Regions from separate parts of the Homo sapiens genome. Here region 1 is linked to region 2. The links come from fine-mapping of genetic effects on gene expression. Tissue or cell type: whole blood. Region 2 holds a variant in brackets; the other region holds the start of a gene. Each region is shown on its reference strand, or each on the opposite one. Region 1 holds the start of SMIM1 (small integral membrane protein 1 (Vel blood group)). Region 2 has its middle 660 kb from the start of LINC01815.

Region 1 (2,833 bases), not on the chromosome of region 2:
CACCAGCACACCCCTGCTGCAGCAAGCCTCTCTGGAGGAGGAGGAGAGGGTGGCGTCCCGGGCAGCTGGCACGGACTGTGCAGACCGGCCTCAAGGCCAAGGTGAGGAACTGGGAAGGCCACCTCGACGGCTGTGTTTCTTGTGTAGAGAATTATCTCAGAGAGAAGCGACTACTATAATCAGCTGAAGCAGAAAGGCGTCAAAGTGCCCCCCCTGCAACAGTCAGAGGCCTTCCTGACCAGCAAATCCAAGAAGGGGACCTCCAAGTAGGCCCAGCCAGGCCCCCAAATACGGTCAGCCCAGCAGAGGCCGGGGCCCAGCTCCAGAACCACCCGCCCCCACCATGCGTCCTGCTCTCAGACTCAGAATTAAACCCCGGTGTTGGCACTGTCCCACCTTTTTCTTCTCTGGGATCCACGCGGGGGCCTACTCTCCTCTGCGACCTTGAGCTACAAGGACACTCCCCATTCCAAAGCTCACTCACAGGGAGTCAGCACACCAGCCTGTGCCCCTAGCTCCTAACAGGTCCCCTTGCGGCACCAGGCTGCCAGAGGCCTGAGCCGGGGTGTCCGCCCAGCACTCAGCACAGACCTCACGCCTGAGCAGAAGGGGTCTGTGACCTTCTGCCCTGGGGGCTCTCCTGGCTGGGGCACTCTCTTGCTGGAGGACCCCTCTGGAAGATGGTGAGGGTGGGGGGCTCTGTTCCCATCCCCCCGCTCCTGGAAGGAAAGCTTTACGCACGGGAACGGTGTCTGTGGTCCCCGACGCTTCCCCGGCGCCTCTGAGGCTCTGGGCGCCTGAACACCTTCGGAAGGGACTCTCCCCATTACCCTTCTCTGCTCCCCACCCACACCTGCTTCCCTTCCCGCCGCGAGCACCGAGCGTGGGCCACGTGCGGGCGCCACGCCCCTCAAGCCCCGGAGGAGGACGGTCCCCGCGGCCGGGTCCCCGAACCCAGCATTCAGGCCCAGACGCGCCCAGAGCCTCCCGCAGTCTCGTCGGCGCTGCAGCCGGGTCCCCGCGGGGCTGGGAGGCTCGTGGCGTCGGAGGGGCTCCAGCAGGGGTGAAGGAGGTCGGGGACCCTGGAGGCCCCAAGGGCGAGCCGTCTGGGGGCAGAAAGTGCAGCCCTCTGCAGACCCTGCCCGGCCCCCCTGCACCTCCTGGCCCCGGGGCTGGGCGGCCTAGAGCCCCGGCCCCTTCCGGACGAGGCGTCTCCCGGCCCCACTCGCCCCGCCCCCAGCCCCTTCTGGACCAGGCGCCTCCCCGCTGCGGCCCTAGCCCTTCCCCGCATGGCCCCGCCCCCCTCTCGCCCCGCCCCCTCTCGCCCCGCCCCCGGCCCCTTCTGGACCAGGCGCCTCCCCGCTACTGGCCCCAGACCTTCCCCGCATGGCCCCGCCCACCACTCTAGCCCCGCCACCTTCCGGACCAGACACCTCCCCGCTGCTGGCTCCAGCCCTTCCCCGCGTGGCCCCGCCCCCGCCCTCGCCCCCTGCCCAGGCCCGGCCCCTGCGGAGCCCAGAGACGCGGGGACACAGGTGAGGCGCGCGGGGTCCGGGCTGCGGCTTCCCGGTGCGGCCGCAGTGGGCAGGTGCGACTGTGCGCGGCCTCGCTGGCTGAGAACTGGCGGGGGTGGGGGCGTGCCCTGGACTGACCCCCACCGGCCTAACCCGCGGTGCGGGGCCAGGGCCGGAACTGCCCGCCCGGCTCCTTGCCCGGCTCCTTGTGGCTGCTGGGGACCCCCGACACCAGCCACTTTCCCTTCCCGGCCCTTAGCAAGATCGGCTTCTCCGGTCACCTTTATTTTTTTAGGCTCGAGGCGTCTGCCGCACCTCAGCCCACGACCTGCCCCGCTGGGAGGTGCGGGCCGCTGGCCAGGCCCTGACCGCAACCTGGCCCAGAGGCCCCAGCCCTCAGGCAAGGTTCTCCGGGTAAGTGTGGGGCCCTGAGGCGCTGTGGGGTGAAGAGGTCTATGGAGGGGCGCCTGTGTACCTAGGGCCTTCCTGCACTCACAAGCCCCCAGGAGGTGCCAGGATCCGGGAGCCTCCCAGGGCCTGGAGGGGAGTCCCTGATGGGTTCCTGCCGCCACACCTGTGACCATCACATGAGTGTGGAGAGACGTTTACTGAGCAAGTGAGGGAGGCCAGCCTCAAGGGCCGGCTCTGGTGGCTGTGCACCGGGGTGACTTGGGAACAACGTGTTCTACGTCAGCAAGACAGGAACCCATGATCCCAGAGTTGAACACACTGGGCTTGACCCCTCCCACCGGGAGGCCCATGGTGGGCTGCTGCTGTGGACTTGGAGCCTCAGCACTCCCGAGACTAATGCTGCGTGGATGTCGGGTTGCAAGGCGGCTGCTGCAGCTCCAGCAGCTCCAGCCATCACGTCGAGTCTGGAAGAAGGAGGTGGCTGCTGCTGCTTTCACAGAAGCAAACTCTCCCATCCCCTGCTGCACCCTGGCTCCTGGACCCCAGCTGGGTGACTTGGGAAAGCAGGGGTGGTGGTATTAAGCTTGTCTTACCCGGGTCATGGCTGTTACCTGGGGCTGGCACATTGCTGCTGGGACCAGAATGGGATTCTGCACACCAGGCAAGAGGGCGTGAACCTCGGGTAGGCAGCTGACCGCTCCACATGCTCCGGGAAAACAGCACCCATACTCCAGTAGAGGCTGGGCCTCTCCGGGCCTGAGTGCCAGGCTGCACTGAGCCAGGGCTCCCACCGAAGGCACACTTTATGGCTTTGAGACAGCTCCTTCTGCCTCTCTGGGCTTTGGGGGAAGGCAGACATGGAAGTGCCGGGAGTCTCAGAACTGCCTGGGGCCTGAGTTTCTGAGCTG
Region 2 (2,903 bases):
AGGGAGTTAAAAAATCGAACAGGAAACATTATCATATATGAAACAGTGTTTGGCTTTCTTTGTGCTATATTTGTACAAATGTGTTACTCGTATATGTTCCAAAATAACGGGAAACTCCTATAATTCTGATATGACTTAGTGTATATTATTAAGTGTTATAATTGTTATGTAAAATTGTTATATGCCACAGAAGTAACCAAATTTTCTTTTCAATTGTGACTTTAACATTGGCTGTCCTAAGACTTTTTGTCATCCACAGACACGTGTTGTCTTGTTTTGGTTCTCTTTAGAAGGTTGGTTTATAGTCAGCTATAGAACTCTTAACAGATGTACTTAAATGCAGATTTTCTGATAATTTTGGAGATTGTAACATCACAATAGAGGGAAAACATTCAAGACTCTCATAGAGAGCTGAAATGTTGATGAATATCAAACAAGTTAATTGCATGGACTAAACTAATAGAGGTCTAACTGCTTAAAACATTGCTAATCCTATGTTTTGTTTTTCAGAGTCAAGAAAACTTTCCTTTTGAGCTCTTTACAGCTTGTAGCAATTAATTAAGGTATACTCCTGTGAACAAAATTTGGAGCTTTTGTTTCTCTCTACCTGATTTCTCCAGAATTTGGAAACTATTTGTGAGCATTCTTAACTAATGGCAATATAGTTATTTGCATAAGTGCAATAAGAATCTCTTTTCTTTTGAAACAGGACACAATTGGAGAAACTGGTTGTTTTACCAAGGCTTTAACTGTAATGGCATGCTTATCTTTAAGGAATCAAATTTGACTTGTAGAGCCAATAAAAGCCCCTTGGGAACTGGTCTCATACCTTGCCTGTACAGTCCCTGTACAGGGTTTCTGACCTATGGTAAGTAATGTCACATTCTAACAGGTCCTGGAGCCCTAAGTTATCTTGGAAACCCAAGAAGAGAGGAATTTACTCAACTCATAGGCATTTAAGGGTACAAGCCCATGGCTGGGCTTGGCTTTAAAAAAGTCCTTATCTGATGTTCCTTCTATGGAACAGATTTCCAATAAGCCAATTTAAAAAGAACTTATGTGAAATAATTATTCTTGCTGCACTTTATAAAAATAATCAAAAAATTGGGAACTGGAGAGAGGAATATTATGTTTCAAGAACTATGGTACACTCATTATTAAATTCTAGTCTCAACAGTTGTTTTAGTTTTTTTCTGCAATTTAGGCAAACCCTGCTTATTCCCATGAACCAAACAGTCATCTCTGGCTACTACACAGAAGAAACAAGAGGGGTGGGTAATATAAAAATCTGAATCAGTATTCTAATTCTGGGCACACTGGAATTGGCTAGCAACCCAATAACAACTTGGTTCCAACAGTTGCGCAGTTCATGGAAAGCCTTCTTACTTAGTTTACTTGGGACAATTTTACTTATTTTGCTTTACTATTGTGAAATATATTGCC[A/G]TTGTACTCTTTATGGAAGAATGCAGGACAAGCTTATTAAGTGTTTTCTTAAACTGAACACTTACTAATCTTCCAGATGTCACTTCTTGTCAGAAATCATGAGTCATGAATGGCTGTCTCCATACTAATGCTTTATACTGAGCTCTTCTCTACCCTGAACACAAGAGACCCTCACTGTTAGGCAGGAATATCATTATCCCTATTCAGCCTGAAGAAGTTACAGAAGATGAATCCTCTCTGCAACCCTTAGGTTGCAGAGTGGGGAAATGTCAGAGGTGTGTAAACAAAAGCAACTCCATCTTGAATAGGAGCTAGGTAAAATGAGGCTGAGAACTACTGGGCTGCATTCCCAGATGGTTAAGGCATTCTAAGTCATAGAATGAGATAGGAGGTTGGCACAAGATACAGGTCATAGAGACCTTGCTGATAAAACAGGTTGCAGTAAAGAAGCCAGCCCAAACCCACCAAAACAAAGATGGCGATGAAAGTGATCTCTGGTCATCCTCACTGCTACACTCCCACCAGTTCCATGACAGTTTACAAATGCCATGGCAATGTCAGAAAGTTACTCTAAAGGGTCTAAAAAGGGGAGGCATGGATAATTCATCCCTTGTTTGGCATATCATCAAGAAATAACCATAAAAATGGGCAACCAGCAGCCCTTGAGTCTTCTCTGTTGATGGAATAGCCATTCTTGTATTCCTTTACTTTCCTAGTAAACTTGCTTTTGCTTTGCACTGTGGACTTGCCCTGAATTATTTCCTGTGTGAGATCCAAGAATCCTCTCTTGGGGTCTGGATCAGGACCCCTTTCCTGTAACACCAACACTTTGAGACCCTCTAGGCGGCTAAGAGGTACATCTCTCTGAGGTTTTTAGAGCAAGTGAATCCAAAACAAACAGTAAACAATGCTCTCAAACTGCAATGACATATTCATTAAATATGACATACTTTTTCGATGATCTCTTTTTCATTAAAAACTATGTTAGCTACATTTTAAAATCTATTTGAAAAAATTTATATATTTTATGGATATCACAGGTAAGGAAGTATATATGAGGCAGATTTTTATAAAACTATGATGATATGACATGTCTGGAAATTAGCACTTTATGTACCTGATGTTCTAATACTTGAAATACAGTTTTAAAAAGAGCCCAATTAAATGAATAATTGTGAGCAACAAGCATGTCTGGTGTATTTAATATAGTAATTATCCTAACTCAGTTTTCCTCAATATAAATCCAAATAGTAAAAGAATTATAGAACATTTCATAAACGTGACCTTTAGTAAACATGTTCCATGAAATTTGATTTCCACAAGTTAATTTGAAAGGACTTATTTTGGATCATGTCATAAAAGAGAGAAAAAAGGCTTGCCAGGCTACAGAAAAAGACTAGAGGGCAACGAATAAATCAATCACTGTGATAAAATGTCAAAGAATATGAGACAGAATCAGT

Evidence for each region. PIP is the estimated chance that this variant, and not a neighbour inherited with it, causes the effect. A credible set is the group of variants that fine-mapping cannot tell apart.
Region 1: it holds the start of SMIM1, and the variant in region 2 is the best candidate, but not a certain one, in a credible set for the expression of SMIM1 in whole blood (TOPMed, PIP 0.67).

Annotation. Positions count from the first base shown.
Region 1 is chr1:3,771,254-3,774,086 of GRCh38, forward strand. SMIM1 (small integral membrane protein 1 (Vel blood group)) reads left to right here and starts at 1,496. Exons shown (of 4, transcript NM_001288583.2): 1 at 1,496-1,535; 2 at 1,810-1,928. CCDC27 (coiled-coil domain containing 27) reads left to right here. Exons shown (of 12, transcript NM_152492.3): 12 at 148-392. The coding sequence ends at 270. RefSeq lists enhancers at 1-557, 1,844-2,359, 2,360-2,833 and a silencer at 903-1,782.
Region 2 is chr2:82,130,374-82,133,276 of GRCh38, forward strand. No RefSeq gene overlaps it. Among named protein-coding and RNA genes, the nearest start is that of LINC01815, 660 kb to the left of the region's middle. The variant A/G (reference allele first, on the strand shown) is at 1,444.